Homo sapiens: one gene and its partners. The protein of the gene in region 3 interacts with the protein of the main gene of each other region in a pairwise test. Each region holds a gene or a part of one and is shown on either strand. Other genes may lie near its edges. The genes, in order: FOSL2, ZDHHC17, ATF2, VRK1, ATF3, LHX8 and BACH1.

What was found.
Region 1: the proteins of ATF2 (region 3) and FOSL2 interact in binary tests that used the Homo sapiens proteins (3 or more experiments, as listed by UniProt).
Region 2: the proteins of ATF2 (region 3) and ZDHHC17 interact in binary tests that used the Homo sapiens proteins (3 or more experiments, as listed by UniProt).
Region 4: the proteins of ATF2 (region 3) and VRK1 interact in binary tests that used the Homo sapiens proteins (3 or more experiments, as listed by UniProt).
Region 5: the proteins of ATF2 (region 3) and ATF3 interact in binary tests that used the Homo sapiens proteins (3 or more experiments, as listed by UniProt).
Region 6: the proteins of ATF2 (region 3) and LHX8 interact in binary tests that used the Homo sapiens proteins (3 or more experiments, as listed by UniProt).
Region 7: the proteins of ATF2 (region 3) and BACH1 interact in binary tests that used the Homo sapiens proteins (3 or more experiments, as listed by UniProt).

The regions. Positions count from the first base shown.
Region 1 is NC_000002.12:28,399,114-28,403,336, reverse strand, and holds part of FOSL2 (fos-related antigen 2), read right to left. Parts: intron 1-4,223.
Region 2 is NC_000012.12:76,808,832-76,813,054, reverse strand, and holds part of ZDHHC17 (palmitoyltransferase ZDHHC17), read right to left. Parts: intron 4,013-4,223; coding exon 3,935-4,012; intron 3,343-3,934; coding exon 3,198-3,342; intron 1-3,197. UniProt on the Homo sapiens protein: Palmitoyltransferase that catalyzes the addition of palmitate onto various protein substrates and is involved in a variety of cellular processes.
Region 3 is NC_000002.12:175,116,044-175,120,266, forward strand, and holds part of ATF2 (cyclic AMP-dependent transcription factor ATF-2), read right to left. Parts: intron 2,327-4,223; coding exon 2,208-2,326; intron 2,076-2,207; coding exon 1,947-2,075; intron 1-1,946. UniProt on the Homo sapiens protein: Transcriptional activator which regulates the transcription of various genes, including those involved in anti-apoptosis, cell growth, and DNA damage response.
Region 4 is NC_000014.9:96,799,869-96,804,091, reverse strand, and holds part of VRK1 (serine/threonine-protein kinase VRK1), read right to left. Parts: intron 1-4,223. UniProt on the Homo sapiens protein: Serine/threonine kinase involved in the regulation of key cellular processes including the cell cycle, nuclear condensation, transcription regulation, and DNA damage response.
Region 5 is NC_000001.11:212,611,460-212,615,682, reverse strand, and holds part of ATF3 (cyclic AMP-dependent transcription factor ATF-3), read right to left. Parts: intron 666-4,223; 5' UTR 662-665; coding exon 422-661; intron 1-421.
Region 6 is NC_000001.11:75,151,075-75,155,297, reverse strand, and holds part of LHX8 (LIM/homeobox protein Lhx8), read right to left. Parts: intron 1-4,223. UniProt on the Homo sapiens protein: Transcription factor involved in differentiation of certain neurons and mesenchymal cells.
Region 7 is NC_000021.9:29,304,926-29,309,148, forward strand, and holds part of BACH1 (transcription regulator protein BACH1), read left to right. Parts: intron 1-278; exon of another isoform or gene 279-397; intron 398-4,223. UniProt on the Homo sapiens protein: Transcriptional regulator that acts as a repressor or activator, depending on the context. Binds to NF-E2 DNA binding sites. Plays important roles in coordinating transcription activation and repression by MAFK.

The DNA of each region.
Region 1 (4,223 bases), about 150 Mb from region 3:
TTTTCTCCCCGCTTCTTAATTTATGCCCAGACCACGTTGCAGAGCTCTCTGGAACATGCTGCAGGAAGCATTCTATTTAAAATATAAGATGATGACAGAGTATAGAAACTAAAATGGGCTGTGCTCCTTAGCAGCTGGTCCTGACCTTTCTCCAAGGCAGCTACTGGAAACTGCAAGAAGCGGGAAGGAGAGAAGAGCCCCCTACTTCCAGCTTTTCAGAGGCAAGTCCCCCTAATGGAACCCAGGTGAACCTTCATCTTCAGATGACTCCTGTGTCCACATAAAGCTTCTCCAAGTAGTTTCTTCCCCACTTAAAAACTGGGTGAGATGAAGACAATAGCTAACAACACTTCCTGGGCACTTACTAAATGTCAGACACCATGGCTTACCTAGATTATCTCACTAATTCTCTCTCTGAGTGAAGAACGACCATTAGCTCCATTTTAGGGACAGAAATTTAGGCTTAGTGAGATTAAGTAACTTATTCAAGGCCACATTGCTAATAAGCAGCGGGGTCAGGATTCAAACCCAGTCCAGCCTGACAAAGAGGCCAGAGCCCCTGAACACAGTGGTATACAAGCTCCTTTTCCATTGCTTTCTTCCTCAAAATCCAGCCCTAAGTGCTGGTTATCCACCCCCACTGCCCTCAGACAGAGTGTCAGGTCATCCCCTATAGACCTCCCCTCTCACAAAGAAGGTACCACAGGTCTGTCTGGCCCCGAATGGAACCCCACTATCATTAGCATGGATGCTGTAGAACCCTCCCTATGCTGGTCCAATCAGACCAACTAGGATAGAAGCATTCGCAGCAATGGAAGCTGGCACCACCATTGTCTTTGCCTTGTCACAACATCAGGGTTCCTGCTGTGTAAATAACACATAGAGTACCTCACTACAGCTGACAGAGCTGGGGACCCCTTCTTGCTCAATTCCCTGCTATCTGCCTGACCCTAGTCTGCATGTTGGAACGGCTGCCTCATCAACCAGACCACCTCGGGGGCCCAGGCCAAGGGCTTCAGTGAAGAGAGCTGCCCAGCACAATGGATTCTGGGATTCTGGAGGAAAGTTACCCAGTGCAATGGATTCTGGGGTTTGGGAGGAGAGCTGCCTAAAGCAATTGGTTCTAGGATTCTGGAGGAAAGTTACCCATTGCAATGCATTCTGGGATTCGGGAGGAGAGCCACCTAGAGCAATGGGTTCTGGGATTCTGGAGGAAAGTTACCCAGCACAATGCATTCTGGGATTCGGGAGGAGAGCTGCACAGAGCAATGGGTTCTGGGATTCTGGAGGAAAGTTACCCAGTACAATGCATTCTGAGATTCAAGAGGAGAGTTGCACAGAACAATGGTTTCTGGCATTCTGGAGAAAAGTTATCCGGTGCAATGCATCATTCTGAGATTCAGGAGGAGAGCTGCCTAGAGCAATGGGTTCTGGGATACTGGAGGAAAGTTACCCAGTACAATGGATTCTGGGATCCCGTGAAGAGAGCTGCCCAGGGTGATAGATTCTGAGTTGCATTTCTGAAGGCAAAGAAAAGTGGGCTTTTTATCAGGCGCTGACTGAAAAGCAGCAGGTGTGTGCATATGAAGGAGGGAAGAGTGCAGTGAACAGGAAAGCATCCAAGTGGGAAATGATCTTCAAGGAGGAAAAATGGCCAATTGGGGCTGGGCTGTGAGTAGGCAGAGTCGTGAGAACAGCAGGCATGGCTGAGTGTGTGTAGAAGCACCAAGTCCCAGACAGCTATTTTTTTCCTGAGCTGCTGGATGGGAGGGGCGGGGAGTCAACACTGCACTCGGGGTCAGGAGGCATGGGGTTGAGGCCTGGCTTAGCCACTGAGTGCCTTGCCCTGGGCTCAAGGACTCAATTCCATGGATGTAAAGGGGAATACTCATCAAACTCACTGCACTGCCATGAGGATTAAATGAGTAGCTACTTGTAATCACAGGCTATAAAAGCACGCCAGTGGTTCTCAACCCTGGCTACACATTAGAATATTCCAAGGAGCTTGTAAAAAACACACTAATGTCAGAGCCTCGCCATTAGACCTCTAAAATAATTGGTTTGGGGCAGGGCTCTGATAAGCTTTTTTTTTTTTTTTAAACCCCCAAGGAGAGTCTGTTGTGCAGCCAGGGTTGAGAAACATTGCTCCAAACCAATGGAAGGTCACCATCACCACCACCATCATCATTAGATGTGCCTGTGTACTCTGCCCAGGAGGCTCTGGGGAGAAGTGCCAGCTACCCACTCCTGGGAAGCACCCAACTTTTAAATTCCATTTCTCTCCCCAAGCCAGGTTCTGGGTTTGAAATGCACCTGAGGCATTCAGCACAATGGTTTGATATGACTCCCTCCTCCATGGGGAAGCTGTCAGCTTTCCTTTTAGGAAAGCACCTAAGAAAGTCACTCCTCATTCCAACAAATAAAAGTGCTCCCGTTTTAGGCTTGGGGAACCCAGCAGAAAATCTGAAGCAAAGCTGAGGGACAAAGACCCCTTCAGAATAAGTGGATGCCTATTAGCCCCTCTGAGGCCCTCTAGTCCACCCGCTCTGGAGGGCAGGTCCGTGGTGTGTGCTCCCCGGTATACATCAGCCAGATTCCTCGCAGCAATGGCTTGGTCTAGACAAAACAAGACAGCAATAAAAACCAGCCAGGAGGTAATGACTGCCTCTGAAACGCATGTACACCTTGTTTCAGACAGGAGGCAAAGCCATCTGGATAATACACTGGCTCTAAACTGCAAGGAAAACAATGTCCCATCCCCAGAGGGGCCCGGGGCTCTGATAAAGAAGGCTTTTGTCTCCAAGAGGAGCTTCTCTTGGAGACACACAAAAGTTTCAATTAGATCTGGCAGATGGGTCTTGTCTCAACTCCCAGCATGTTATTCAGAAACGTGTTATTCAGAAACGTGTTATTCAGACACTGGGGTAGGAGAGAAGAGGTGAAGTTAGGAGTTTGTGGTCCCAGAAGTTAGCCTAGCATTCTTCTATGCCAATAGACCCGAGAATCAGCCACATGTCACACTGGAGATAAATCGTGGTTCTCTACGGACGAGTTAACACTAAACACAAACCAAGATAGAGCTGCTCAGCTGGGGGCTACAGGGCAGTTTCAAACCTGCTGCATGCATGCCAGGAGTGTGCTGGGAGTGATGGGATCAGGAGAGGTAACCCAAAACCTCACTCGGCTGCCTGGGGCTCTGTAGCCAACATGTCCTCCTCAAGGACACTTTGAAGATGCTGGATGCCTATGTAGCATTCCAGCCTGGCAAAGCCTCCAAATATTTCACTGTGTCACCCTGTCAACTGCGGGGTGGGCAAGAATGCCTATAAAAGGATATAGTGGTCCCCATCCACCTCCTAGAGCAGAGTTTAGCAAACTTTTGCTGTGAAGGGTCAGACAGCAAATATTTTAGGCTTGGTGGGCTATACGGTCTTGGCTGCACCTCAATTCTGCCACTGCAGTGCGAAAGCAGCCCTAGATAACATGTAAACAAATAGGCAGGACTGTGCCACTGTATTTTATTTAGAAAAATACTCAGGACATAGTTTGCCAACCCCTGTCCCAGAGGTTCATTCTCATCTCCCATGCTCAGGTTGGAGGGAAACGAATACAGAGGAAATAAGAAAGCAAAAAGTCAGAACTGAGATGTTCCTCCAACCCAGGTAGCCGAGGAGACGGGCTCTCACTTATCAGCTTGAACCTCCAGACCCTGAGCCGACGTTCAAACCCTTACAAGCCTTGTGGTCTTTGGGCATGGAAACTCCCATCACCCTGCTGTACCCTGTTGCTAGGGTGCCACCGGGCTGCTTGGGAAGGATGCGTGTGCTCCTTCCACTGCCAATGAGAAAGACGGCCGAAAACACGGACCCTCTAGGGCCACCAAACCTCAGCAGGTCAGAGAAGTTCCCCCCACAACAGTTGCTGATTTGGGAAAACTGCCTCCTGAGACTCTATACTGGAGCCTTGGCTTCAGCTATGAACCCATGGCTTTTTGCTGACAGGTATTGGAACTAGGGTTTGGGCCCCTACAGGACCGGATGGGGCCGAGGGCTTATCCCAGAGACTCGTGAGTGGGCAGAACTGGTATGTGAGATGGAAGTCAGGGTTGGGGTTCTTGGCCCAGCCCCTTGGCCAGGCGATTCTCCATCAGATAGATTTTTGTCTGGGTTATCAAGCATTCAAGCCATGAAGCCCTGTGGACTCTGTAAACTGCCTTGCCAGGC
Region 2 (4,223 bases), on a different chromosome or scaffold from region 3:
AGAGTACTAAAAGAAAAATGAAATTCAACCTTTTCTCTCTTTGGGTCGGGATTTAAAACTTGGTACTTCTTTTCCAAGTTCAGCCTGGACGTATGGGTATTCTCTATTAGGAAGAATTAACAAGCCCAGATCAAAAGCTTATGGGAATTCCATGATCAACAGGGCTCCATAACTTAGCATTTTCCCCTTTTTCTCCTGAAAATCATCCAAAAGAATTGGTAGTGAGCACTAAATATATTTAACAATATAACTAAAACAAAACGATTGTGAAGAATAGAATGACAAAACTGAATGGAAATGTTATATACCCTGACAATGTAAAATTGATATAATTAACAACAAAATGGGAAAATGGAAAAAGGTTGAAATGAAAATATGCTGAGAGCCTCATCTATAGTAGCCATGAATCAAAGAAAACTATCTAAAGCTGAAAAATCAAGTAATAAAAATGTAGTAAAAATTTATCAGAACATAGTTAACATTAAGAAAAACAATATTATTGACTACAGTCGATAAAAGAGAAAGGGAAGAAGAAATAAAAATATGCTAATTTTATTACTGCTTATAATTAGGAACTATGTAATCAGAACTAATAAAATTTGAGCAACCATCTGACTGAAGAGAGAGAGAGAAACTGTGTGACTATCTGAGGAAAGAATATACCAGCAGAAGAAACAGCAACCAAAAGGCCCTTAGACAACAGCATGTCAGAGTTGCTGAAAAAGTAGCAAAAAAAAACTAGTGCAGTTAAAGCAGAGTGATGATGGGGAGATGGCAGAAGTGGAGCTCAAAGGTATCCAGGGGTTAAACGGCACAGTGCTCTAGCACAGAGAAAAACTCTGGGCCCTCACAGTATGATGCAATGCACATTGGAAGAGTGTCTTTTACAATATATTAGTGTATACATGTTGAGTATCCTTTATGTAAAATGCTTGGGACCAGAAGTGTTTGAATATGTGTATGTTTTTCCTATGTTGAAATATTTGCATATATGTAATAAAATCTTGAGAATGGGACCAAAATCTAAATGTGGAATTCATTCATCTTTCATATACACCTTATACATACAGCCTGAAGGCAATTTTATTCAATATTTTAAATAATTTTGTACATGAAACAAAGTGTGTGTACAACGAACTATATTGGAAAGCAAAGGTGTCAGGGGTAAAATTTTCCACTTGTGGCATCATGTTGACACTCAAAACGTTTTGGATTTCGCAGCATTCCGGATTTTCAGATTACAGATGCTTAATCTGTACATGGAATAAAATCTCTTAAAATACATACTACATTATTAAAGGAAGTAACCTCAGTCAGCAGATGGCCAAGGGGAGAGGTGAGATTTCATTTTCTAAGTCATATTCTATTATGCCTGAATATTTCATAATAAACATTTATTATCTTTGTGTGCAGAAAAAAAATTTACTCATGGAAAAAAAAAACTATTTCTCAGACATTTATCATCATCATTATCATCATCATGCCCTTTTTGTACCAAAAGCACTGACAGGTAGAAATCCTGCCCTTTGAGAATTTTATAGCCTATATACTATACCAGAGGTTAAAAAGATTAATGAAATAATCCAAACTCCAAAATCAATAAGTTAAAAAAAAGACCATGAAGACTCAAAAATGTACACCACCTTTCTTTCCCAGTTAAAAACTGAAAGTAAAAAAGTGAATGTGTATTGTAGATTTATTCTGCAATATGGAAGGCCACTAAAGACCTTGTGATGTGCTATAGCACCATTTACTGCTTCAACGTTTGTTCTAGAAAAAAACTGCAGAATAACAAGAATAATCTCCTATAGCAGTTGCTCTCCAGATGACCCCCCATAAACCTGGCCTCTTGGTATTCACACCCTTGTGTGGTCCCTTCCCTCCGGGTGGTTATGGCCCTTGTTAACTCACTTTAACTGATAGAATGGAGAAAAAACGTTGCTGTGTCAGTTCAAGACCTAAGACTTAAAAATGCAAAACAGCTTCTACTTTTGTTCTTTTGGGAGCTCTAAGCCAATATGTAAGAAGTCTAGTTCTCCTGCTGGAAAGACCACATGGACTGGTATTGAAAAGTAGAAGTTCTGACACTACATAGAGAAAGAAAGAGGCCTCGCTGCCCCAGCCTCCCAGTTAAGCAGTTTGTAGCCATTCCTATCAAGTCACAAGATATGTGAGCCAATCTTCCAGCTCAGTCAAGCCGCCAGACAACTGCAGCCACCAGCCAAGGAGAAAAACCATCCAGCCAAGCCCACAAAATTGTGAGACGTATTAATTGGTTGGTATTGTTCTTAAGCCATTAGATTTTGGCAGTAGTTTTTTAACACAGTAACAGACAATAACCCCCCCTCCCCTTCCAGCAATTAACTTTATCAGTCTATGCCTCTTTTCCTAAACTATAATGCACAACACAACTGCCACTGCTTGAGACTGCCAACAACAAATACTGTAAAACCTTCATTAAAAGAAATAGTATTCAAATTCTAAATCCGCATAGAATTTTAAATTAACAATAAATACATGTTGATAGCAACAAATTAAATACATATATCTTAAAGTTATTCTTGTGATGAGATCCTTACTTATAAAATTAATGTTCAAATATAACCAGAAAAAACACACTAAAGAAAAACTGGGTGACATTACTTTTAACAAAATACGTTTATTACAAAAACATGATTATATAAACTGGTAATATTTAATGTGATTATGGTCACTGCACACTCAAGAAAAATCAGGAACAACCACTTAAAATATGATGTTTTTCTGACAAGTAAGAAGCAGCATTATCTTATACAGCAGAAACTGATCTTAAAAAATGTATCCCTCTCAAGAGATATTTAATATATAAAATAACCAATAAATAAGTTCAAAAAAGTTTGGATGAATTCAGATGATATATTCAAAATACATAAAGAAAAAATAGATACTTATATTTTCTCTCTTAATTTCTGAGCTTTATCTCCATTACTCTTAGAAATAAAAAACCCAACTTCATCATTATCTGGTTCATGATTTTCATGCTGGCTTTTATGTTAGGTACATTAAATATCTCCATATCAAACTCACTATATTTATGTTCTTCACCCATCAGAAAGTGCTATTTAAATATCAACGGCTTGTTACAACACCAATAATATTAGGCATTTAAACTATGAAGAACATCTGATTAAAATCCATACCACTGAGATTTTTTTTACCTGTCCTTTTGCTATGAGATAAGCAACAATTGAGGTATGTCCGAACTGAGCAGCCAGATGAATACAGCTACATCCTTCTCCATCAATTAATGAAGGATCTGCACCATATTTCATTAGTTGCACAACCATGGATAGATGGCCTTGTCTAAAACATAAAAGAATAAACACTTAGATATATAAAGTTATTTCAAACAGGATCCTCTGGGAAGAGCTTTTTCAAGTAAGGTATGGTGGGAAGATTACGTATGTATTTTGAAAAGTTATTTTAAAATAGATACATGTCAAAATACATTTAGGATTTTATGGTTCTTAGAAGTCTTAACTAGATTAACAGTCTGAAAATGTATGGAAGTACTCATAACTTATTTAAATATATAGTAAATAATTACTATATTCTATTATGTCCATTCTAATATTATCTCAATCATCCCAAGAAATGAGCTAATTCTTTCATTGTAAATATATACAGGCTGCAAAAATATTACGTTTAGAAATCCAAAGTTTAATCCAATCTTATAACTAACTGAATTAATATCAGCATGGCCAGGGAAACTTTGGACAATAAACTTTTGCTTCTTTACAGGTAATATTTCACAATAAAACATCAGCATATTTATGATATTAACTAACGGCATAATAAGCTCTCCTATTCATTTTAGTATATCATTTTTTTAAAGTTGTTTATTTATATACTAATAAAGGAACCAAAGGAAAAAAATCCAGAAGCAAATTTAAACCTTGTGGCCCAGTGCAATGGAGTTGAATTCAGGTCCCCTCCAAGTTGATCCACAATAGCACCTTTCGAAATATAGTATCTATAAGACAAAATTTATAATAATTTAAATAACTTTCATTTTCAATTTTAAGAAATTTTGTGAAAAATATGTAAATACATGTTTTCTATTTCAGATCTCATGCTAGTTTGAACCTTTGAAAATAAATAATCTTTTGTGGTTGTTTAAAAAACATATTTAGCAGAATTTTATATCAAATACCTCTTTTGTTCTAGAATAAGGAAAAGAAAAA
Region 3 (4,223 bases):
TAAGGATAGATGCGTAGACAGGCCCAGATCAAAGAGGGCTTATGCCAAGGAGTGTGAATTATTTTAAATACAATGGTAGACCATTGAAAGATTTTAAGCAGGTGACATATTTAATGTATTAAAAGTCATCTTACAGAAAATGGATTGGAGGTAGAAGCAGGAAGACAAGTTAGAAGGTAACTGTTAATAATCCAAACAAAAGATGATGATGGTTTGGGCTTACGTGGTGTCACTGAACACAGACATAGAGGATGAGATTCAGGTCTGATAAAATATGCTGTTAGTTTCAGTGTAAAAGAAAGAAGAAATTAAGGATGACCCCTAAATTCTCAGCTAGAACAACTAAATGGATGGAGAAAATTTACTGAGATGGGGAAAACTGGGGGAAGAATCAAGGACTCTGATTTTGACCTATTAAGTTTAAGATGTCTATTAGACATAGAAAAGGTAATGTCAAGATGGAGTTGGATATAAATCTGGCAATCTGGTGAGATACCTATGCCCATAGAAATTTGGGAGTCATCAGTATGTAGATGTTTATTAAAGTTATGGGCCTGGATGAGATCACCTAGGAAGAAAATCAAGAAAGAAGAAGAGGTCCAGATTTTTTTTTTTTTAAATCAATTTCATATGGTATACCTTGCTCAAGGAGGGCCTAATGATTGGGGAATGCAGAAAGAAGGAATACTCCTAAAAGATGCTGAAGCAGCCACGAACAATGAAAAACTGTTAAGTGTGAAAAGAATGAAATGCTCTCTAGGAAAAAAGATTTGTATCAGAGATTTAAAAAGCATTTCCAATAACTGTAATAATGTGGAAACAACCTTTATGTCCAAAAAGAACAGGATAACATAATACATATACATATCATATAATAAAATAAAGTACAATCATTAAAAAGTATGATTTGGGGAACTCTCTAATGACATGGGAAAATATTCATCAATACTGAGGGTCTAAAGCACAATATAAAATAAAGCTAGGATCTTTATATCCATCTATCCTTCTATTTAACTATTCACTTATGTATTTGTACCTATAAATGTATATATCTAGAAAAAAATGTTTCAAGATAGTAATTCTTATTCAATTATGTGCTAATAGGTGATTTTGGTTTTCTTTTCATGTTTCTGTATTCTTAGAGAAGAAGAATGAGAATGTACTTTTAAAATGAGAAAAAGAAAATGAAGAAAAAAAAACAGAAAACAAAGCATTTATTCTTAGCCAAAAAGTTATTTTTTCTGTATTTCCTTATTTCTAGCTCCTCTGCCATGACAGAAGTCCATTAATAAGTATGGTTTTAGAATAACAATCTAAAAAAGAATATTGCCACTGCCTCTTTATGTGTCCCATTGCCCTTCGCTGTGTCCTGCATGGTACTCCCAAATAAATATGTGCTTATTCTATGTGCTTGTGAACAAAAGAGTGATCAAGAAGTTCCCATAATAATGTTACTCAACACACAACTGTAGCCCAGGTGGTCCCAGATTATCTGGGTATTCAAGCTAGTATCATCATCGTCCTAATTGCCGCTAACAAAGATCCACTGCTGAGAATGAGTAACTAGTCCCTTAATCCTGTAAAAGTCTAAAAAACCACTGTTCAAATAATTTTTTGAATAGATTCTTAATTAAGCTGTTACTGTATAAAAGTAGCTAAATATAAAATAGCAAAACACAGAAAAATTAAGTTAAATTTATAAATTTATATATCTTTTAAAAATAAGTTTTATGTAACATGACTGTTCTCCCCTATAATTTTTCTATGTACAATAAAAGCTGCAGTCTTCTTACCCTGAAATATCTGAGTATTGACAGGCTTTCACATATAAAACTATTGCAAGCTGACACTGAATTTAATACATTAACATTTTATGGAGATTAAATAGTAAACTTTATTTGGGTACTGTTCCTCCCCCTTACTTTGTATTTCTAAAAATTTCTAACCTTCTCATCACTGGTAGTAGACTCTGGGTGAGGTAAAGGACTATCCTGGTGAGTTGTTTCTACAACAGAAGGCTCCTCAATTTTGCTTCTTATGATAGGTGTTGCAAGAGGGGATAAATCTAGAGGCATCTATAATTCAAATAATAAGGAAAAGGTTATAAGTTCAAAAACAGTGTGTCTAAATTTAAAAAGCAGGAAGTATAAACTATGATTACTTTTCTGTCAGAAGTACTCTTTTTAAATTTCATGGTTACAACATACTTTTTTAATGTCATCTTCTGAAGCTTTCTTGAATTCATTCTCAAATGGACTCGCCAACTCATTAAACAAACCCACTTCTTCACAGTTTTTCAAGAATCTTGTTGGTGTTGGGGTCTGATCTGAAATAAATGTCAAGAAGTAATCATGCATATTTAAATATGTTAAGACTCTAAAATATAGCTACTAAGTTAACAAATTAGCAGGACTGGTTCAGTCAGTTGTTAATTCTCTCTTTGGAAAGACCTCTTCCTTTAAAACAAACAAAATTTGGTTAAATTTTTGTTGTACTTCGTATTTCCTCCAACTTTAAGAACTATGAAATATGAAAGTAGGAAAGAAGTCCTTTTTGCTCCTTAGTCCACTGCTTCTTTCTGAGTAGAATGGCATAAACATCCTCTACTCAAGAGATAAACTATTATTATCTAACACAGTATAAAGAATTTTTTAAATTTACATTATTAAAAACTACAATTATTTAAATAAATGAAATTTGGGGAAAACTAGGATAAGAGCATGTATATCTGCTTTAACTTGGTTCTTCCACTAGCTGTTCATACTCTATTATGAAAGCAAACTAAGATAAAACAATCTTTAATAGGTAGATAAAAATATTGTAAGAAAGAAAAAAAAAGTTAAAACAGCCCTAAAACAACAAACCCTCTTTTTACCACTATCTACTGAAACTAATTTTCTAATTTAATGCATTTTACAAGCTAGGTACAAGGAATATGTGTGAGTCACATGCCTCCAGAATGTTCTAGCTTAATTCCTAAGGAGTAAAGAAAGAGTCTACTCTATTTTCTTACAACATGAAACATTTCAACTTTACTCGAATATGTACTCCTACTATGTACATTAACATAGGTACTCAGTGTCCATGTATAGGCTACAAAAAATGCCAGGTAAGATTTACACTGAATGAAAAGCAAGAAACTTATAAATTCTGCCTATTTAGTGTTACTATTTTCAAGGGTGTCTATTCATATTGATTAGAGTTGGTAGCACATTCAAATTCTATTCACATTTAATATATTTTAGAGCACCAATTTTACAGGCTATAGCAGGGATCTAGCCTAAGTGAAGTAAAAGTACTCTACTAAGGAAGACTCTTGGTTTAAGAGAAAATACTCCTAATTCCTTTTGTAAGATTAAAATTTACATATTTGTTAACCATTATGTCCCCACAGAGGGCATTACTTCCTATTTTACCTTTGCCCCCCACATGTATACCTAGAGGACTAGTATTTTTACTATGTACAAATATATTTCACACTAAAATGACCCACTTGTAATACAAAACTAGACATAATGCAGGCCTGTTTCAGGCACTGTTAGTAATATCAGAATTACTAAAAGGACTCTATTATATCATAATTTTACTAGTTTCTAGCCTATCCCTTAATTCCCACCTCCCAAAAGATCTCAAAAATCACATTACAGTAAGTAAAGTACATGTATTAGCTTAAGTCCATCATGACTAAATTAGTAGGTCAAATCTAAATGTGACTCTTCTGTTCACACCCAAAGGGTTTGTCTATCTAAGTTCATCAGAAGGCTCTTAACTTACATTAAAGGGAGGGGAAAATCTTAAAAAAATAAAATACATAAGCATAAGTCACTTTTATCAATGATTACTGGAACCATCAGACTTCAGAAAAGTCAACATAGGCACAATCATTTAACATGCACATTGCATATGGCTACTGATCACCAAAAATATACCACACACATCATGCATTTTATTTGCATAGTAATGTTAACCTATTCATCTCAACATGTTAGTGAAAAAAAAGGTCAAGTACTGTGTTTGAATGTGCTCTATTTTTCTACTGCATTAAATGTGATCAGACAGGAAAGTAATTTCTAGAAACCAATTTCAAAACATATTTGAGTTAAAGAGTTACACACAGACAGAGATTGTGCTAAGGCAGAAAGTTTCAGAGAAACAAAGAGCTTCATGCCTAGGAGAGTGAACTTTCGAGGTTGTTACTATTTTGCTTGTTTGGTTCCTTTGGT
Region 4 (4,223 bases), on a different chromosome or scaffold from region 3:
AGGCAGAGAGTTCTAAGATAGGCACTAAAAACACGATCCATATATTGAGAAGTTGGACTTTAACAAAATTTGAAACTTTTTTGCTGCTAAAGACACTGTTAAGAGAATGAAAAGACAAGCCAGAGACTGAGAGAATATATTTACAAATCATATATTTGGCAAAGGATTTTGTATACACAACATATAAAGAATGCTCTAAAATCAGTAAGAAAACAAACCAATCACAAAACGGGTAAAAGACTTGAACAGACAAATCACCAAAAAAAATATGAATGGCAAATAAGCACATGAAATCATCAGCCATTAGGATGCAAATTAAAGCCATGACAAGATACCAGTACGCACAAAAAATATCACCAATACCAAATGGTAGTGAGGTTGTGGAGAAACTGTATCTCTCAAACACAGCAGCACCCCCTTCATCTGTGAGGGATACATTCCAAAGCCCTCAGTGGATACCTTAAATGGTGGAGAGTATGGAGAGTATCGAACCCTACATAAATACGTTTTTTCCTATACATACATTAGATAGACATACTTATGATGAAGCTTAATTTATAAATTGGAGCCAGTTAAGAGATTAACAACAATACTAAGAGTAATTATAACAATATGTCAGCGGCCAGATGCGGTGGCTCACTCCCTGCAGTCCCAGCACTTTGGGAGGCAGAGGCAGGCGGATCACCTGAAGTCAGGAGTTCGAGACCAGCCTGGCCAAAATGGTGAAACCCTGTCTCTACTTAAAATGCAAAAATTTGCGGTGCGTGGCAGCAGGCGCCTGTGACCCAGCTACTAGGGAGGCTGAGGCAAGAGAATCGCTTGACCCTGGGAGGCGGAGGTTGCAGTGAGCTGAGATCACACCATTGCACTCCAGCCTGGGGGACAAGATAAGAGACCTGCCTCAAAAAAAAAAAAAAAAAAAATGCCAGCATCACTAGTCTTGCACTTGGGGTCACTACTAAGTACAATAAGGGATTCTCAAACACAAGCACCAAGACACCAGACAGTCAATCTGATAACCAAGAGTGACTAACTAGCTGGTGGGTAGTGTATACAGTGTGGATATGCTGGACAAAGGGATGATTTACACCCCACCTGGGACAGAATAAGAGGGCTCAAGGTTTTATCACTATATGACCCAGCAGTTGAATTTCTAGATATTTATTCTAGAACAATTAAAACTTACAGTCACAAAAGAACCTGTACATTAATGTTCATAGCAGCTTTACCTGCAATCACCAAAAACCAGAAACAACCCACATGGCCTTCCATGGGTAAATGGTTAAATGTGATACAGCCATAAAATGGACAAGCACTGTGCAATTATCAAAAGCAGGAAAGTGACACTAATACAATATTCATCACTGAACTACTTATTGAAATGTCAGCTTTTACATTCTTTTGTGTGTCTAATTCTAGGACATTGTGTCATGTGTACAGATTCATGTAACCATCACCATAAACAAGACACTGAACTGTTCTATCATCTCAAAGAAAGTCAGCCCTAACCCCAGCAAAACCGGTCTGTTCTGCATTTCTATAATTTTGTCATTTTGAGAATCCTATATAAATGGAATCATACAATCTCTGAGACTGGCTTTTTTCACTCAATACAATGCCCTTAAACTCCAACCAAGTTGCTGCATGAACCAACAGTTTGTTTCTTTTTTTGATGGTGGTGTTCTACCGCAAGACTATCACATTTTATTTAACCATTCACCCACTGAAGGACATGTGAGTTGTTTCTGGTTTTTAGCTATTATAAACAAGGCTTCTACGAGCATTCATGTACAGGTTTTTTTGTGAACGTTTTTATTTCTCTAGGATAAAGGCTCAGGAGTGCAATCGCTGGATTGTGTGTCAAATGTACGTTTAACTTTTCGAGAAATTGCCAAACTAATTTCCAGAGTGGTTATATCATTTTACATTCCTACCAGCAACATATGAAAGATAAATTTTAGAGTCAGCATTTCTAAAGTATTTTCTGCAAGTCTGAAAAAACAAGATTAAACTTCTTAAATGTTATAACCTGAACTTATTTTTAAAAAATGAATTTTAAAACTTTTTTCCTGATTCCCAAATAACAGATTACCTCTAAGAAAAAAATGCATACAGCTGACCCTTGAACAACATGAGTGTGAACTGTGCAGGTCCACTTATACACAGATTTTCTTCTGCCTCTGCCACTCCAAGACAGCAAGACCAACCTCTCCTCTTGTTCCTCCTCCTGAGCCTACTCAACACCAAGACAATGAGGATGAAGACCTTTAAGATGGCCCACTTCCGCTTCATGAACAATAAATATATTTGCTCTTTCTTAGGGTTTTCTTAATAATATTTTCTTTTCTCTAGCTTATTGTATTGTAAGAATATAGCATATAGTACATATACAAATATGTGTTAATTGTTTATGCTATTGGTAGGGCTTCTGGTCAACAGGCTATGAGTGGTTAAGCTTTTGAGGAGTCAAAGCTTATACATGGATTTTCAACTGCATGGGGGTCAGCACTCCCAACCCCTGAGTTGTTCAAGGGTACACTGTAATTACATATAATCTCTATGTTGATAGCTGTTGCCAAATTACATAGTAAACTGCAATAAGATGTGAAAAAAGCAACTCTAAAGACTACAGTAGAAACATTAACAGTTTCTCTCCCTGTGTCTTCCAGACACATTCTATAAATACTTAAGGTCTAATAGTTCTTTCTAACACTTAATATTGTGAAACGCAATCACAATGCACTAATACTTAGTGTCATCAAATGATGACTTTTCTTTAGCTGTCACTTGATAAAAACAATCTAAGAAAAGCAATTAACCTGAAATAAAGCTGTGGTTATCTTAGCTATGTCTAACTTCATGGTTTGTTTAATTTTAGATATAAATGACAATTAGATAATGCAATCTCTTTTGGATTCTTAAAGCAAGTATCTAAGTCTAGAGCAGACATATCTGCCGACATACAAACAGCCAGACAGACGGTCCTCAAAAAGAAAATAAAATAAATACACAGAAAGAAATTATAAGGTCCCTGGAACAGTGGAATGAGGCTGCTCGTGTTCCTAATGACTTTCAGTTCTCATGTTTAGTCCCCTGCAGGACCAACTATATTGTTCCTGATACTGAGCTCCACAAGACACGTGTCCTTCCATTATCAGTATGATATTTGCTTTAAAAGTATATGACAGACCATTCCCAAATCTCAAATTTAATTTGCTTGTGCTTGCAATTTAATTATTTACTTCATCTAGTATATCTTCCCATTTAATGAATTACTTACCAATAAACATTTTAGTATACACGTTTAATATTCATCTTAAATATTTGCCAGTGTGAACAGTATCTACCTTAATTTTCAAATCCTAGAGTACTGGTTCCCATCCTATGGGCAAGAAACCCATAGAGAGATAGGAGTAACTGCAAAGAATCATCAAAATCCATATACTTACCTAAAGACTAAATAAATGTGATTCACAAACATATATGTTTCCAAGCTGACAAAGATACTGTGGCTAATAAAAATCTTAATAAATTTCCTGAAGAATGTTGGTAAAAGTAGAGCAGTTTCTTCTCATCAGTATTTATTGATGAATACTAAAAATCTAACTCCTAATATGGGAGAAGGGCCATCGCTCGTACCTCTCTAGATTTTCTAGAGAGCTTTTCTTTTTTAAAGTGTTGCCCATATGTCACTCAGAACAGGAGGAGTAGGATGTGCTTGAATTTGAGTGCAAAGATTTAAGACAACATTGGGAGAGATGGAGCAGGAGTAATTGGGAAAGTGCATGAAATTACTTCAAAACAGCAACTTCAGAATGCTGGGTGCTTAAATATCATTCAAGCACCAAAGGGAAAAAATTCAAAGGACAGAGCCCTCTGCATCTTTATAATGGCAAGTAGAAATATATTCACAGGAATTTTGATCAAAAGAGCCAAACTTATCCTAGAGTAAAAATACATCTTGGTTACAACACCTACCTAAATGTTTTATTAGGGTTCTATCACCCTTTTAAATTAATCTTGTACCTTTATTAAACATTTTCTACATTTTAACATTAATAGTGCAGTTTTTCAAAGGCGCCCTACACATTTATTGGATTATTCTGTGCTGGATGCTAGATAAAGTTAAAAAAAAAAAAAAAAAGACGTACACTAATTTAAAACAAAGAAAACTTGCTTCAGCAAAACACTACAATAGCAATAGACTTTGCACCTAGCACAAT
Region 5 (4,223 bases), on a different chromosome or scaffold from region 3:
ATAGGCCATGTACCACCTTGCCCAGCTAATACTGTCATAGAGATTGGGTTTCATTGTGTTGCCCAGGCTGGTCTCAAACTCCTGGACTCAAGCGATAATCCCATCTTGGCCTCTCAAAGTGCTGGGATTATAAGCGTGGGCCACCATGCCTGGCCTGAAAAGTTTTTAAACCCAGCAACCCCATCCCTACCCGTTCTCTCTGCCCCGCTCCCTGCTTTTTTCTCCTTTGCACTCATCTCTTAACGTGTACTTACGTATGTTATGTACTTCTGTCTCCTCCCAGGAGAAGGTAAGCTCCCTGAGGGCAGTGGTTTTGTTTGTTTCACTCTCAACAACAGCCCCCTGCCTAGAACATGCCCAACACACAGTGGCTGCGAGCGAAACATGTGCCGAAAGAATGAATACCTGTGATAGAACCCACCTCGGCTTTTGTGATGGACACCCCGAGGGGTCTGTCGCTGACAGTGACTGATTCCAGCGCAGAGGACATCCGGTGGCAGAGGTGCTTGTTCTGGATGGCAAACCTCAGCTCTTCCTTGACAAAGGGCGTCAGGTTAGCAAAATCCTCAAACACCAGTGACCCAGGAGGGGACAGGCAGGGGACGATGGCAGAAGCACTCACTTCCGAGGCAGAGACCTGGCCTGGGTGTTGAAGCATCATTTTGCTGAAAGACACATTGAAACCCAAACTGTTTCAGGGGCTCTGGGGCATGGGATCAAGTCCCCCTCCCCCACCAGACCTCCAACACCAGAGCCCCACCCTCAGAGAAAAGTCCCATAAGCCCTTGGGTTTCTGTTTTGTTTTCATTTCATGCCATCCTCATCTTAAGTAAAGCAGGTTCTTAAAATACACATAGCTCAGTGACATGAACAAAATGCCTATTTGAAATTTATAAGGGATGATGTTTCAGGCTACTCTGAATTCACAAGATCTATGAGTTTTGGCTGGTGTGCCTATGTGCAAATGTGGCCACAAACAGTCCTGAAAGAGGAAGAACATTTTTTAAAAATCAGTGAGGCCATTTTAAAAATCATGAGTAATCTCATTTTCAGCTTCTTTTTCTTTCTCTCTCTCTCTCTTTTTTTTTTTTTGTATATTACTCAAAATAAAGTTTCTTTCACTTAAAAAAAAAAGCCTCTTTTTCAAAGAGGCTTGACGTCAAGCTGAAACTATCAGTGAGTGGAAGTAAAAGCAAAAAGTGGGGAATCCTTGAATTTAGCAAATACATCTCTGAAGCTTCTCCCCCGAAGTTGGGCCCAAGCAATGGGAATGAGAAAGGTAACTGTAGCCAGGTGCGTTTCTTCACCCCAGTCTTTGGCAGGGGATGGGGAGGTGGATTCTTAAGGTTAAGGTTGGCAAAGCAAAAGGTCTTAAAGAAAAGTGAGGCACTGTATTGTGGGGGAGTTGTTCAGGCCTGTGGTATAGGGATAGACTTAGGCTGGGTGTGGGGGCAGGGAACCCTGGGGCTGGCTCTGGCACTAAACAGCAGTGACTTGAGCTAGTAATTTCAGCTCTCTAGGACCCAGTCTGTGTCTGGTAAATGACTGACAGCTCCTCCAATGCAAGCATTGAGTCTCCACCATTGCTTTACCCAGAGCCTGGCCCAATGCCTGACTCGCCATGCCTCATTGGCCAACTGATAAATGAAGTGGGGATGGGGTCATCAAATCAAATGGCCCCCACGGTCCAAGGTTACCTTTCTCATTCCCATTGCTTGGGCCCAACTTCCGAGGGAGAAGCTTCAGTGATGTATTTGCTAAATTCATCTCCCTCTGTTATTCTATAGCTCGGTGAACCCAAAAGGATGACAAAAGGAAAATAAAGAGTAGAAATAGTGACAGTTCCATGGCCCCAATTTGGAAGAGTCCCCCATAAGTCTTGGCCTGCTGTGTACTCCCTCCAGTGGTGGCCATTTCCCCTCCTCCCTGCAGTTGGTTCCCAAGGGACAATGAGTATAGGGATGAGTGTAGGATGAGTGTGGTCTGGGCATTCCTCTCAACCGGGGATCTGTGGTCATTAGCACAGTCCAGACAGAGAAGAAGCCCTCTGGCAAGTCTCGAACATTTAAGGAGTGCCTCCTTCATACCAGAAACCTTAGGGGCACTATCTCATTTAATCCTCACGAGAACCCAGTGAGTTAAGATCTAGCTGCCTTTTATAGATGAGATAATTGAGGTTTAGACAAACTAAGTCATTTGCCCGAATTCACAGAATTAATATGGGGCAGCATCAGGATTTGGAATTAAGTTAGTTTGGCTCCAGGATTCATGCCCTTAATTTGTACATTGCAAAAAACAAACAAATATTATTCTACATTACAAAAACAAACAAGCATTATGTTATATTGCACAAACAAACAAAAAACCAGAGCAAATTTTCTCGGGGCAGGCCTTAAGGTAGGTGGGAGGCCTGGAAATGAAGTGATAGAGGGGAGGCTAAGTAAAGATTCCTCGGGATAAACTGAACTCTGTTTAATGAACTGCTAATCTTTATGTCACGGTGCATACCCAGGCTGCTTGCTAACTGCCTTCTGGGAGTGTGAGCAAGTGGGTCTCTTATCCACAAAATTCCCAGACTGAGGTCAGAAGATGAAGATTTGAAGCCCACTTACTCCATTATGTGTTATCATTGTACCTCCCCGTGGCTTTTTCTCCTCTGTTAAAGAGGGCTTGTAATAATCGCCCTATTTTCCCATAATATCCTATGAGGAATTGAGGAACTAATACATGAATATGCCCTGGAAAACATTCTTTGGCCAGGAGCTCCATGATTACTAGGCCTCCCAGAGATCTCTCCAGCCCAGGGCTGGCTCTCTGACAGAGGCTCTGTGGAGTCCAGGAAGGAGGGCAGCTGGTCACCCACTTTGATCTCAAAGGCTTCTGAATAGAATACCCTGACTTCAAACTCCCCCTGGAGATCTAACATACACCAATGGAGGCAAGACTTCCAGGCCAATGAAATCTGCCCTTGACTAGTCAAAGAAACCCAGGCTATGTATGTAATTCTTTTCCCAAAGCCCTGTGTCATGAGTCAGAACTGAAGTTCTTCTCTCAATTTAATCCTATAATCTTAGGATGCTGGGAGGATACTTGTCGCTGTCAGGCAATAAACTCTGAGAAACTAGCCTTCTAAAGCCAGAGGCTTAAGATTCTCCCATGCATTCATGTTTCCCTTCCCTTTCCAAGTTTATTAAAAACTCAGTGATTCGGGGATGACATTCAGAGCTGCCACTGGGCTGGTCTTTGTTTGGAGGCCTGGATGGCTCCCTTCTACACGGGGACTTTGAATTCCACTGCAGTAGAGTGTAGTTCCATTTTGCCATCCAACTAGGTTTATTAATGAGCTCTCAGGGCTTGGGGTCTGCTGTTTATGACTCCCGCCCCCTACCCTTCTTCTTATGTAAAGTCAGCAGTCCCAATGAAAGAAGCTGAAGAATGTCAGTGGTATGGAATGCTTTTATGAAAAGCATTGGGTGGGCTTCCTTGGGGACATAAATGGTTGTAAAAATGTTAAAAGCCTTTCAGAAAATAAAACAGATGTATCTGTCGAGATTTGGGTTTTCTCGGCACTAGGCTAAAGCTTAACTTCTCGGGATACTTTCTAGTTATTCCTTTACTCAGTCTCTCGAGGTATGATTCAGCCTAGACTACGGCTGTGTCCCCACAAGGAAATGAAGTTAAATCTTCACACAATTTTTCAGAAAGTTGAGATCCTCAAACATCCCGGTCATTGAAAAAAATTGTTTGGGGACCTCAGATCAGAGTTGACTTTCTATGCTGATCATAAAATTGTTCAGACTTGCTACCAAGAACTTGCATTTTGTTTCTGCTTGATTATTTCCAATCAGAAATCATGTTGTATCATTGGCAGTTTCATCATTTTCAAGAAAGTGAAAGTTTACTCATGTATTCCTTTAACTGGAAATTCAGCTCCCAGATTTTTATTTCCTAGTAGCTACAGCTACATTGAATTTTCACTTTTAATTTTCATCCTCTTTCCACTAAGCATTGCTTGCTAACCATCTTATGTTACTAGGAAGCCAGTACTGGCCTTTCACTAACTCTTCATATCTTGGTCTTCCTCCCAGACCTCTTGAAGAGGTGCAAAGCTGGGCATCAAGGGCCAGAGACAATGTTTCTAAGCCTATCAGTGCCACTCATAAGCTGAGCATCCACCAACAAATCACTTAGGCTTTCTGGGCCTCTCATTCTCTTCCTCTGTA
Region 6 (4,223 bases), on a different chromosome or scaffold from region 3:
ATGCCACTGCACTCCAGGCTGGGCGACAGAGCGAGACTCCGTCTCAAAAAAAAAAAAAAAAAAAAAAGAGAGTGTTTCTTCATTAAAATACTGTATCACTTTTTTTCCATCACTCCAAACAATTCTGTCATGAGAGGAAAGAGAGGCGAAGGGATAAAAACTTAGCATGAGAACATTTTGGGATCAGGGATATGAGGCCAGGAAAACATCAGGGGCATAAGTCTGTTCAAGGCTGGTGGTAGGGCCTTGATGGCACAAGGCAATCAGGGCTGATTAATGTGAAATAAAAGGAAGCTGCAAAGAATTTATAAGAAAAAGCTGGCCTTACTTCAGAACTACACCCTGCCCCTGGCATTCAAAAATAGAAGGTTGGCAAAGTATACTCTCAAGAGTGATTAAAACTAAAAGAATAAAAAATTAATAATCTAGTGGGGTATATAGCCTTGAGCAGGAGGCTGAAAAGTAGCAGCTAAGGAATGTTTCTGGGACAAGACTTAGGTATCCACCAGTAAGACAAGTGGGAAGTCACAGCCTCCTCCACATCCCTGTTCTCTGGAGTGTTAGTGAGACTCAGAGATACCTATAGACCACACCCCAAACTCCACAGTTCTGCCCACAGGCTCTGGAACAATAGATGTCACTACTAACACTAGTCTCACCCAAATAGGATGACATTACTCAAACATTCTCCAATGTGTAAGGGGGAACCACTGCCACCGGCCTTTTTCCCTTATGGGACCCAGAAGACACATACGCCAGAGGACTACATATAACCTAAAACATGTTGCACTATGATTCCCAGAGTTTCTTCAAAGTATCTTTTTGTCTCCAATAAGTTATATATTGAATGGAACCTATGCAGTTGTAAAACAAAAGAAACACCATCTTTTGATTGAAAAAAAAAAACACTCAAACTTTGTAAATAAACATGAAGAAGGTATAATATAAACAGCAGAATAACTATCTTGTTAAGCAGCTTCTTGGAAAGATCATCCACAGGTAATCAAGCAGAAGGAGGTTTGCAAAAACAAAGTATCATGTAACTAACTGGTAGAGCAAAATATAGTTTAAGATTCCAGACATCAGGAAATTCCTTCTGGCATGAATGCTACCCAGCTTCAGAATCAAGTATAAGTCCTTTTGACTCTCCTCACTGACAAAATTTCCTCCTTCTTGTTTGCAAACCTCCAACAAGAGTTAACATTTTCTGAGTAACTACTTTAAATTTTTTGACTTCTAAATCATAAACTAAGCTAAAATCAGGCCATGTAGATATAATGGAAAAGCAAAATACTAATGCAGAGAATGAAACCTTTAGAAAGCCCAGACAAAAAGCCAAATATAATAATTTTGTATATGACAAAGATGGGATTTTATTTTATTGGGAAAGCATGTTTCACTGATTTAGGGAAAACTGATAGTTTATCATTTGAAAGAGAGAAAAAAATAGATAAAACCCTATCTCCCATGAACCAAGCCAGATAAATTAAAGTTTAGGCGTAAATAATTGAAACAATAAAAGTTTAAGAAAACAAAAGGCAACATTGAAATACTCTCTAGATAGGGAAGCATAAGAAAGGCCAAAACTAGACCCGGCGTGGTGGCTCACACCTGTAGTCCCAGCACTTTGGGAGGCCGAGGTGGCAGATCACAAGTTCAGGAGTTCAAGACCAGCCTGGCCAACATGGTGAAACCCCATCTCTACTAAAAATACAAAAATTAGCCAGTCATGATGGCAGGTGCCTGTAGTCCCAGCTGCTCGAGAGGCTGAGGAGGAGAATCACTCGAGCCCAGGAGGCAGAGGTTGCAGTGAGCTGAGACTGCACCATTGCACTCTAGCCTGGGCAACAGAGCAAGACTCCATCTCAAAAAACAAAACAAAACAAAACAAAAAGGCCAGGCGTGATGGCTCACTCCTGTAATCCCAGCACTTTGGGAGGCCGAGGTGGGTGGATCACGAGGTCAGGAGTCGAGACCAGCCTGGCCAATATGGTGAAACCCCGTCTCTACCAAAAAATACAAAAATTAGCTGCGTGTGGTATCACGCACCTGTAGTCCCAGCTACTCAGAAGGCTGATGCAGGAGAATCGCTTGAGTCCGGAAGGCGGAGGTTGAAGTGAGCTGAGATCGTGCCACTGCACTCCAGCCTGGGTGACAGAGTGAGACTCCATCTCAAAAAAAGAAAAACAAAACAAAAAAAAAGGCCAAAACTATCAAAAGACTGGGAGATTTAAACACATAGAAATATAAATGTTCTGTGTGGAAAAAATAAAAAGGAAATTGATGAACCGTGAAAGGTTAACATGACAGATAGGATTAATAAATATCAGTAAGATATAGAGAAAATAACCCAACAGAAGAGTGAGCTAAAAACATACGGTCTTAAAAATGAAAAAATAAACTAATTTGTTCAAGCTCATTGATAATATAAGAAACAGAAATAAAATCAATGAGATTTTCTTTTCTAACTATTAAATTGTAAAGGATGTAAAAGAGTAACAGTATTCAGGATTCTTCTGAGTTGGGGAAAAGGAACTCTTGTACGTAGCTCCTGGCAGAATAAAGTTGTATGAACTTTCTCAAAGGCAAAGAGATTTCATGTTTGTATAAAGGCCCTATGCATGTTTTATCTTTGGACTCAACAATCTCCCTTCCAGAAATTTATCCTGAGGAAACTATTGAACAAGCACGCAAGGTAGATATACAATGTTGCTCATGGCAGCATTTTATAATAGTGAAAAATTGGAAGCTAAATAAATTGTGCTATGCTCAATATATGTGGCAATAAATATGATGTTAATATGGAAGGGTATTCCTAGTACACTGATTGGAAGAAATAGCAATAGTTTACTCTGTCTCTGCACAACATAAAAATCATAATTCACTTATCTGAAAGAGTATGTGAACAGTGATTGTATCTGGATGCAGTGTGTGGGGAAAAAAATCACTCATCTTTATTCTTTGACTTCAGTATAAGGACAGTCTGCTTTATTACAAATGTCTTACTAAGCATATTTGTAACTAGGAAACGTGAAACTCTCCACGTATCACACCAGTTTCCTCCTAATCTTTGGGTGACCTAGTTTGCATATTAGAAGAAGTCTAGTAATAAAAACTCTTTTTTCTTACCTTTCTAAAATATTATGCCCAATGCTAGGAAGGAGGCTGAGGGAAAGTATGATTACTATTTGAGATCACAGTAATTCTTATAAAATACTCTGAAGGGCTACAACATATAGTGAGCCTATGTATAGATACAAATAATAAACACATAAGCATGCTAGTACTCTTTCCTTTGGAATCATATCAAAAATATTTAATGTTCAACCTTAACATATTGAAAGCCAACATTCAAAATATATTCTCCAAATGGTAGGGCTTAGGACAAAGTTAACTTGCTCATAGTACTAGTAACCTAAATGCCTGGAAATTACATGACAGATGTCTGCCTGTGTTCCTTAGTCCTTCAAATATGAAAAGCTCTAAGAAAACTCTCCTTCTTCTTTGCTTCCAACTTCAAAATGATATAAGTCATGCATCTGACTTACCTGAAGCTATCATTGTTATGAATATACAGAGTCTTAAATTAGAAGGAACTTTTAGCCCGTGGAGTCGGAACTACCTGCCAAAGAAAACTGTTCTCCCAGGCAGAGGAAACTCACTACCTTCCTTGGTAGTCCGTGCCATTTGTGTAGCCTTTCAATAATGAGAAAATTCATTATGAGTGAACACCAGTGCCTTTTTCTACATTCCGTTGCAGGGAAGCCTTTCACAAATATTTAAAGACACCTACTCTGGATATTACTCTTTCTCTTACCATCTCCTGGCCTTATCTCCAGATAAATATCCCTGCTGCCTTTAATATTATGGCATGATCTAAATCTTTCACAACCCTGGTAGCCTTTGAGGTAGTATGTTTTTCAGATTGCTTATTAGTCCCTTCTTAAAATTTGGCACTCTGAAATAAGCACAATAATCTGGATATCTGAAAGTGCTGAAGTGGTAGAACTTGTCTCCTAAGACAGCCTCATTACCTTGCAGTCAATTAAAACACTGTGAACCCTAGGTCTTTAGAGAAGCTGCAGTATCATCAGGTCTTTTCCATCTGCTTCTTCGTACAGGTGATTTGTTAATTATGAAACCTTTAGGCTTACAGAAGAATAAGTACCCATGTATCAACCACCCAAATTAAGAAACAAAATAAAATATGTGCAATGAAGACA
Region 7 (4,223 bases), on a different chromosome or scaffold from region 3:
AAAGATTGAATAAATTTATTAGGTTGTAATTTCATTAATGTGTATTTTATATTTAAATATTATTTTAAAAAATGTACAGTGGTTATCTGATCTTGGCCCAGGCCTCTTCAATTTCCAGTGTACCTGATGTCTCTTTATCAACTGTTTTTCTGAGGTGTATCTCAGCCTGGCCTTGGGTACTCCCCTAGGTAAGAGTCATAATTCAGGTTAAAAGAGGTAAGAAAAAAAAAAGCTTTTGGCTTTTGTAATCTTGTTTTTTTTTTTTTCTTTCACATTAGCAAAAGACTGTTGAAGTAGAGAGCATTTTGCCCAGCTCACTCGGATTCTTTGCTGGCATGCCTTCAGTTTCAGTTGTCATCCAGAGAAGTCAAAGGAAATGCTGCTTGGGGATGAGCATGTAATTACGATTAACTTTCCCTACTTCGTTGTCTCTTTGTGGTAAAAGACTGTCACAAGTGCTATTCAAACTATAGGTATTTTTTTTTAGATTTCTAAAAAGTATATTTTGTCTCTGAGGGCCTCCTGTCTTTGGACTAGTTTGTCTTTTTCCAGACCCCAGAAAGGCTGGGCCACCTTTTCTTCTTTGAGCAGGTTGGCAACAGTGGTCACAAATAGCAGAGGAGCTGAGATTCTAGAGAGCTATCCTACCACTGCTTCTCAGATGCCAGTGTGGAAACAGCCTCTTCTTTTTTGTTGAATTAGCTTGGAACAGCTCTCTAATCTCTGAAGAGTGAGGAAAAACTGTGTTTTTAAGTTTCAAGGCTAAGGCACTGTGTTCTCTTTTCTCCCTGTTCCTGCTGCTGTTCTCCCCCAACTCACATGAACGCATACTTAACTTTCAGTGTATGTGGACAGTAGGGTTGCTAAATTCATGTCAATATTTGTGGCATTCCTACATGTTAGGCATTTGGTTTACATTTAACTTATGAAACAAATGTTTAGGCTTTTATAAGCCAGGAACTTTTCCAGATATTGGCAATAATGAACTTTTCAGAAGTTACAGTCTAATAGACAGGCAAACTATTCCCATAGCATGCTATAGTAGCAACATGTAAAATGTGCTGTGGAACCACAGACTATTAAAAGCCTAAGTTTTGGGAAATCAAGAAAGCCTTAGGGATGTTTAGTGATGAATGCATAGGTTAGTGGAGGAAACAACTTGTATCAACTCAATTTGAGAAGCTTAGCTGTGAATAAGAGGAGAGAGAAATAGATTTTAGTAGGGAGAAGTTGGGTCAGGAAGAGTGTGTGTGTGTGTGTGTGTGTGTGTGTGTGTGTGTGTGTGTATTTAAAAATCCAGTCAATGGAAAAAGGTTGAAGATGCAGGCAACGTCCTTGTTTTGTCCTTGGCAAGTTCCTCTTATGGTTGCAAGATGGCTGCCACAAGTTCAAGTGTCACAAGAAAATATGACTTAAGTTTCCTGGAAGAAGACACACTTTTTTTTTTTTTTTCCTAGGTTGTTGCTATCAGTGAGAAAAATTTTTCCCTAAAGCCTCATAGCAGATGCTACCTTGTCCCTCTCTCCTCTCTTCATAGGTCAGCATTGCACACAAGCCAGTGCCTAAATGAGTCAAGGTCAAGGGGAATAGTACCGCTGTGATTGGCATAAATGGATCGTGATTCATCTTAGGTTGTGGCTGGGGTCTACTTCCTTGGAAGTTGATGGCCTCGGGTTGAGAGTAGATACGTGAGCACAGTCAGGGTTTGGTTAGAAAGTGAGGGGGTGAATGGTGTTGTGCAGTTAACAGTGACATCCTTGTCTACTAGTTCTGCCACCACTACACTTAGATACAAACTTCGGAGGAGAAAAAGAAAATGTGCTTGCCTTTGGATTTGGAATTTTAGGTGACTTTTTTTCCTCTTATATGCCATTTCCTTCTATGATCAAGTAGCACTTTTACAATCAAATCAAATCAATGGTTTATTTAAAAATTATTTAAAAATTGAAAATGCCAATTTTGTCAATAAATATATATAGAAGAAATAATTTTTTTTTTCAATGCTTTAAACATTTCAAAAGTTCCCTGCCATTGTCTTATTCCTTTCAGGGAGAGGAGAACATATAATTATATCTTGTAGTTTCTGATTATGTGTATACTAAGAGGACTACTCTGTCCCTCAGTCCATAGTGCACACCCACCTGTGGTCTCTATGGCTTGCACTGAGTGCTGAGGCCAGCCTGGCTCAGATAGAATTGTTAGTTCATTGGCTAGATGGGTCAGGATTCTTTAGAATGCAAATTCTTGAATCAGGAGTACAAACAGGAACATCTTCCCTTTTCTACACACTCATTCCCCTCCTCGAAGGGAAAGCTGTCCCGTAGTTAGCTTATTCGTCATTCTTTTCAGACTTTAAAATTAATGCCACCTTAAGTTTATACAGTATTCTTGTAGTACTCCTAACTTTTCTGTTTTGCTGTATGTGTACATTGTAGAAAGATTAAATCAAGCTAATTAACATGTCCATTACCTCACTTACCTTTGTGTGTGTGTGTGTGTGTGGTGAGAACCTTTAAATCTACTCTCTTAGCAATTTTGAAATACAGTAGGATCCCCACCCACTGTTTTACTTTCAGCAGTTTGTTACCTGTGGTCAGATGAAGTCCAAAAATATTAAATACAATAGATATTTTGAGAAAGAGACAAACATCACATTCACATAACTTTTATTACAGTATATGGTTATAATTGTTGTATTTTATTATTGTTAATCTCTTACTGTGCTTGATGAAAAAGCATAGTATATATATAGGGTTTGTTACTATCTGCAGTTTCAGGTATCCACTGGGGTTCTTGGAATGTATCCCCTGTAGATAAGGGGGACACCTGTGTATGTTGTTACAAGTATGATCACTGTGTAAAAGCACTTTTGTATTTCATTCTTGTTCCTTCTCAATCGCAGGTCTGGGTGCTTTCTGTGCTGTGAAAGGCAGACAAATAATGTAAATCCTAAACACTTGAGTGTTGTAAATTTACAAAATGAGAATTGCTCAATGGTTGTTTCTTTTTGAGAGTAACAAATAGACTGTGATAAATGGCCAGAGTAGGCTTCTGAACTGGTATTAGTTTTTTGGATAGAATTTAGAAAGACTTGTACTACCAATATAATTTTTGTCTCAGATAAATGCAATAGTATTTCCCTACTCAGTAGTTCCTCAGATGCTATTTAAACTGAGCTATATTTCAGCTTTATTTATAGGCTGCAAATTGTTCCTTATTTGGCTGAATCTTGTGGTTATGATATAATGAAAAGTAGTTACTGAGATCACTGGTGCAAATCTGTAGCTTGGAAATCCTCATTTTAGAAATGATTATTTTGACTCCCAAGTTAAATAGTAAAAAATAGACTTATGTTTTTAGTTTTAGCTATGTATATTGAGAAACTGTGGCCCTACGGTGGCTGTTAGGGATTAGTGGATTAGGTTGTTTTTAAATAAGACATTTCAGTTTAGTATCTCTACTTGAATAAAACAGTTTCAAATTTGTGATTCATATGATATACTGATTGCCCTACGGTAACTTCTGTTTTATTTAATTAAAATTGTTAACATTCTTTTTTATACTCTTAAGCACCTCCCTCCACCCTCACCCCCCTTTTTGACTCAAATTTTATTGTGAGTTGGTGTATAGTTAGGAATTTGAAGAGCACTTTTTTTGTTTATTTTATCTTTTCGGTTACTATGCATACTATGTGTGTCAACTCTTAAACCTGCAGGGGGTCATTTTGGCCATCAACTAGTTTTAGGGCTTTCGCCTCCTAAAGAATATGAATTATGGTTGTAATTTTTACAGTTTAAAAAACAAGATGGCATATGAAGAATCTTTATTTCATTATGAAAATAGAACATGGATGCTTAATCCTCTGTATTGAAAGTAACTTGTAGTGAAATACTTCCTAGTGTTCTCTTCTTCTAGTTGTCCATATGTAGTATGTATAACTATAGACCTTGATGATTTAAGTTGAGCACAGTTTAGTGTCAGGTTCCTTTCAGTGATGCATGAGATTGGTTATATGATCTAGTGAGTGTTATTTAGAAATTAATTCACCAGACCCGGGTGTGGTGGCTCATGCCTGTAATCCCAGCACTATGGGAGGGCGAGGCAGGCAGATCACCTGAGGTCAGGAGTTCGAGACCAGCCTGGCCAACATGGTGAAACCCTGTCTCTACTAAAAATATGAAAATTATCTGGGCGTGGTGATGCTCGCCTGCAATCCCAGCTAC